Regions from separate parts of the Homo sapiens genome. Here region 2 is linked to region 1. Evidence: fine-mapped expression QTL. A gene starts in region 1. The other region holds a variant in brackets. All regions are shown on one strand. Distances are between the middles of the regions.

Evidence for each region. PIP is the estimated chance that this variant, and not a neighbour inherited with it, causes the effect.
Region 2: its variant is fine-mapped to the expression of INF2 in whole blood (TOPMed, PIP 0.98).

What each region holds. Positions count from the first base shown.
Region 1 is chr14:104,688,268-104,691,163 of GRCh38, forward strand. INF2 (inverted formin 2) reads left to right here and starts at 1,351. Exons shown (of 23, transcript NM_022489.4): 1 at 1,351-1,472. RefSeq lists enhancers at 1-332, 333-1,322 and silencers at 1,015-1,274, 1,375-1,464, 1,485-1,724, 1,815-1,864.
Region 2 is chr14:104,770,498-104,773,393 of GRCh38, forward strand. It overlaps AKT1 (AKT serine/threonine kinase 1), which reads right to left. Exons shown (of 15, transcript NM_001382430.1): 11 at 2,754-2,882; 12 at 2,381-2,595; 13 at 1,868-1,955; 14 at 248-350. Among named protein-coding and RNA genes, the nearest start is that of SIVA1, 19 kb to the left of the region's middle. The variant G/A (reference allele first, on the strand shown) is at 1,292.

The sequences.
Region 1 (2,896 bases):
CTTCCGGGGCTGGGGCTGCTGGGCAGGGCAAGGTCCGCACAGGGAGCAGACAGACGCAGCCTGCAATTCGGCGCTTATCCCCACCGGAGCGGAGGCACACCAAAGCCAAAGGACACGCAGCTGGCCTCAAAGCAGAAGCTGCATCGGGGCTGGGAAGCCATTCAGGAGCCCTTTTCTCTCCCCTCGCCCTCACCCTGAGCCCTGGCCGCCACGGCCCACACAGCAGGCCCTCCGGAGAGAGATGTCAGGACTCCGAGTGGAGACACTTTATCCGCATGTTCTTGACCCTCATACAGCCCTTACGGGTACTTATTCTATTTTACAGATGGGGAAACTGAGGCTCCACAGAGTCATATCCGAGCCTGAGGCCGCACAGGGAGTGCTGGCGCCGGTTCTCAGGGCAGGGGTTGTGTCTGCTCTGTCACATGTCACACGGGGGCTCCCCCAGGCCTGCCTTCCTCTGCCCTCCCTCTAGCTGCCAGTGGCCCCCAAACCCCAGGCCTGGTGCGCTGCTTCCTGCAGCTCTGACTGAGGGTCAGACGTCAGAAGGGACTTCCAGAGCTGGGGTCTGGCTCTCATCCAACCAGGCTGGCTTTCAGAGCCGACTATGGGCACGCCCCATGCTGGTCAATGTCGGCGGTGGGGGGATGGGTGCCCCCCTCAATCTAGGAGACAGATGAGGCCGGACAGCAGAGGGGTGGCAGAGAAAACCCACCCCATTGCGACACCTCCGCGGCCCTCATGCAGCTGTCTCCACCAACCGGCGAAGTGCGGCTGCCCAAGACCGCCGAGACCCCATCAAGGGTGGAAGGGGGTCAGGCAGGGCTGCGGAGAGGAGGCCACATGGGTGGCCTGGTTGATGGGTAGGCTCTCTCTCCCCAAAGCCTGGGAAGAGCCATCTCTGCTGAGGGATCCCCGAACGCGGGGACTCCGGATCCGGCTGGCTGGAACGGGAGTCCCGGGCCGGGGCAGAGAGAGGTGAGCGGCGCCTGGGAGGCCAGTCCCACCGGAGGATAGGGGTGTAGGTGGACGGGAGGCGGTGGAGGGCAGGGACGGGGCGGACAGTGGGGGCTGAGGCGGGAGACGGCCCCGATCTGCGCGTCCCACCCCCATCTCCGCCCACCAGGAGCCAGGCCAGCAGGGACCGCGAGGGGGCGGCCAGGTTATTCACGGGAGTGGGGAGACCCCTTAAAGCGCCCTCAGGGACCGGCCACAGTGGGCGGGGCCACCCCCAGCCACCCACCTCCCCCCCCAGGCCCCGCCCCCGGCCCGCGCTCGCTCCCCACGTGGCCGCTGACGGGCGGGGCGGCACCTCCTCTTCCTCCCGCCCGCCCCGCCCGCCCCGCGCCCGCCAGGAGCCACCGTCCGAGCCTTGCGGAGCGCGGCAGTGGGCGCCGGCTGCCCGCAGCCCCTGACCCGGCCCCGGACGGAGCGCCGGCCGCACCACCGCCCTCTGGCCGTTGCCTCACCGGGTAAGTCCTTGGCCTCGGGGTCCGCTTGGAGCTTCAGGGGAAACTGAGTCCGGGAGGAGGCAGGGGCGTGCTTGGGTCCAGGAGCGAGGTTCCGGGCTGCGGCGTGTGTGCCCAGGTGGCGGCGGGCGGTCCGGCGGCGCAGGGTACAGTTCCCGGGCGGGGACCCCAGGGCGCCCCTGGCCCCCCCGGCTCCGCGCGCCCCGCTCGGGACTATGGTCCTCCGCGCCGAGGCACCGCCCGAGCGCGCACTGGCCGCAGAGTGGTGGGCCCAGGGTCGGCCGGGCCTACTCCCAGGGCAGGCGGGATTTCCGCGCCTCGCGGCTGCCACATCCTGACCATGAATCAGCCACAGTTGGGAAAATAAACTTCAACTTCGGGTCCGCCGCCCGGGTGGCACCCCGAGGTGCGCGCCGGCCTGCGGCCCCACCCTGACTGCTTGGCTTCCAGCTGCCCACGCGCAGGTGGGCGCACAGGGAGCCCTTCCCACCCCGCAACCGCTGGCAGGCTTAGGGGAATCAGCCTCCATCACAGCTCTCTGTTCCTTTTGGGTGGGGTAGGATCCAATCCCTGTACGCCCCCAGACCCACCCGTCAACCCTCTAACTGGGGAGTCGCCCCAGGAGTGACCATGACTAAGGAGGGGAAGGCGGGGTGACCAGCTGTGTCCCTGACCGTCCCCAATGCCCCCTGGGGAGCACAGGCGTGGGGGGTGGTCTGTCTGTCTGGGCCTTCTGGGGCTCAAGCTCCCCACCCAGGGCTCCCGCAGCTCAGCTGTGACCACAGCATTACTGCCCACTCCAGCTGGACACACCAGGAGGCAGAGAGGCAGAGACCCTGCCCAGGCAGGGAACCAGGAACCCAGGAACCGGGCCAGAGGTCAGGCACACCCAGAAGGCGCTGGACGTAGGAAATTCCCTTACTGCCAGCCCTGCCCCTCCGTCTGGCACTGGAATGGAGCAGGATACTCGCCCTCTTCCGGCCTCAGTTTCCACATCTGCACTCTGAAGGGTGGGACAGCAGCTCAGGCTGGGACCTGCTCCCTGCCGCCCTGCACTGGGAAGGTGGGGTCCCAGAGCAGTGCCTCAGACCCCGAGGGTGCCACCCAGCCAGGGGCTTTTGGGGTGTCGGTGCTCAGCCCCCAGTGCAGCAAATAGTAGCATTGGGTTCCAGGCCTGGGGTCTGAGACCTCACACTGCTCCCACCCCTACCAGGGCAGCAGCAATTTTCTGTTCTAAAAGCCAGGTTGGTGCAGTGGGCCCTGCCCAGGCCCTGCCCTCCCATCCCTGGACTGTCATGGGCCCTGCAGCCCGGCAAAGGGGATGTCGCTAGTGGGGACGGACCAAGTGGCCAGGTGCGACTGTAGCCTCCACAGCCAGGGCTCCTGAGTTAACCTTCAGGTGAGCGCCCACTTTGTGGAGGAGCTGA
Region 2 (2,896 bases), 82 kb after region 1:
CAACCTCTTAAAGCACGGCCAGCACGCTGCCATACTGCCAGGAAACTGAGACAGGGCCCCACAGATTGACACAGGGACCTGGGCCCTCAGAGCACTGCCTCCCACCCTGATCATTGGCACTCTCCAAAAGGAACCTTTTTAAATATTTAGATTTTAAAACATCTGAAGCCAAAAAAGCTGAACACTGCAGGCCTCTCTGAGTGTGGAGAGAAAAGGGAGTGGGCGGGGGCAGGCAGTGGCCCCTCACCTTGGTCAGGTGGTGTGATGGTGATCATCTGGGCCGTGAACTCCTCATCAAAATACCTGGTGTCAGTCTCCGACGTGACCTGGGGCTTGAAGGGTGGGCTGAGCTGCAGAGGTGGGCAGACGGGACAGTCATGAGCTTCGCTCCCCACTCCCAGCACACCCTCAAGTGTGCTCAAGACCTTCAAAGCACCTGGATCTCCAAGGGGTCTCCAGGCAGGACTGATGTCAGAGAGCAGCAAGCCACCAGCCCCCCACAGAGGCAGCTCTGGGAGGGAGGGACATGAGGGGTGCAGGAGCACGGAGACAACCCTCAACAGCTGAGACGCAAAGCTGCCCTCACAGCAGCCCCAGCAGGCGACAGGAGGTAGTGCAGCCCAGCTCTGAGAGACCCTCCCTGCTACCAGGAGGTGATAACTTTATTTTTCCTTTTTCTTTCTTGTTTTCTTATTTTTCTTATTGGTCTTCTTGTAAATTGGGAAAGAGGGAGACTGTGGAACAAGGTGCACAGGATGAGCCCACCCTGCCTCCATGGCTCAGGGACTACAGGACCACAGCCTGCTGGCATCTGGCTGCAGACAGGACTCTCAATGACCCAGGATGAAGGGTGACTATAAGGTGATGTGCACACGTGAGGAGCTGCCAGAGAGCCCCTCAGGTCCCACAGTCAAGGACCCCCTCAAGCACTGCCCCACCCCAGAGTCTGGGCTGGGCACCAGCATTGTCCATTGTCAATTAGCAAGGTCTCTGGTCAAGGCTGGGCAGAGGTTGAGCACTGCCCAGGCCCCCCATACCCTTGGAGGGCAGGGCAGGAGGGTGGCAGGCCTCAAGGCAGGAACGGGGACCAGGACCAGGGCACCCTGTGTTAATGGGAGAACAGGTGCCCAGCTGGGTCCCAGGGCTGCCCAGCCCGACCAGCTGCACACAGCCTAGGACAGGCATTCAGGGGAGGGGCAGGCTGGGAACGGGGCAGAAGCACACCTGGTGACAGGGCACCCAGCATCTCAGAGTGCAGGCTTCCGAACCCAGCTGGCAGACCCCATCAGCT[G/A]GGGTGATGGCCAGGGCTCCTAGGGTCCCTGAAAGATGAGCACCCAGGATGGCGACTCATGCAGAAAGAGCTGCCTCCCTCCAGGGCGGACTCCCCCATGTGCCAGAAAAGTAGGTGCTGTCCCTGTCCCTGCACAGCCAGAAATAGGGCTGGGCTCTCCTTGCGGCAGAAGGGATTGAGGTCAAACAGGAGGAACTCGTGGAGGCCAAGGGGCAGCACCCCTGGTCCACCACCAGCCAGCCTTCACTGCACAGCGTCAGGGAAGGGAACCCCAAGGCTGGCACTCAGAGTGTGACACACCTCCGAGGGGAGGAGGAAACTCAGAGTGTGACACACCTCCGAGGGGAGGAGGAAATGAGGACCAGGCCAGTTTCCTGGTGGAACCCGGCAGTGCCAGAGCCTCTGAGCACCAGGCGCTGAGGTTGGTGCAGCAAGGCCCTCCTTGTACCAGGACTGCAGCAGGCTCCTGAGGTGAGGGCGAGTGTGTGGGAAATCTGGCGAGCGTGCCACGTGCATGCGTGAGTGTGGATATGTGGGGAGCATGCGTGCGCGTGAATATGCGGGGAGCAGCCGCACCTTCTTCTCGTACACGTGCTGCCACACGATACCGGCAAAGAAGCGATGCTGCATGATCTCCTTGGCGTCCTCGGAGCCCCCGCCAAGCCTGCAGGCAGGAAACAAGGCCACAGTGTCGGTACCGCCACCTGCCCAGGCCCTGGGTTCAGGCCCCTTCCTCCTGTGATGTAGGGCCCGCCAGACAGGACGTTCCGGGGCCAGGGAGGGGAGCCGGTGGTGCAGCGTCCCTGAGCAGCTGTGGGTAGCAAAGCACCACAGAGCTCACGGCAGGGCAGGGGCTTCCTGAGTGGGTGGGTGCAGGCTGCAGGGTTGGGGACAGAGGCCCAACTGACCCCGGCCTGCCCGCCACTCTGCTTGGGCCTGAGGCTTTGGAGATCAGCCCTGGCCAAGGACATCAAGCTTTGGCTATCAGTGTAGTCTGGGAGGTGCCAGGACCGCCTGGCGCAGGGGCAGGTGCAGCCTGGGGATGAGGGGATGGAGGTGTAGCCTGTAGCTGGGATGGGCGGCCCTCACCTCTGCTTGGGGTCCTTCTTGAGCAGCCCTGAAAGCAAGGACTTGGCCTCGGGACCAAGCGTGCGCGGGAAGCGGATCTCCTCCATGAGGATGAGCTCAAAAAGCTTCTCATGGTCCTGGTTGTAGAAGGGCAGGCGACCGCACATCATCTCGTACATGACCACGCCCAGCCCCCACCAGTCCACTGCACGGCCGTAGTCATTGTCCTCCAGCACCTGCACGGGTGGCAGATGGGCAGGACTCGGCATCAAGGGGTGTCCGGGACACTGCCGGGGGAGGTGTGACGTGCTTGGGGCACAGAGAGGACACAGCATTGCGTGTGCTCAGGACGTGGGGACGCAGCAACGCGTATGCACGCAGGTGGGGCGCACACCTCGGGGGCCAGGTACTCAGGTGTGCCGCAAAAGGTCTTCATGGTGGCACCGTCCTTGATCCCCTCCTTGCACAGCCCGAAGTCTGTGATCTTAATGTGCCCGTCCTTGTCCAGCATGAGGTTCTCCAGCTAGGGGAAAGGTG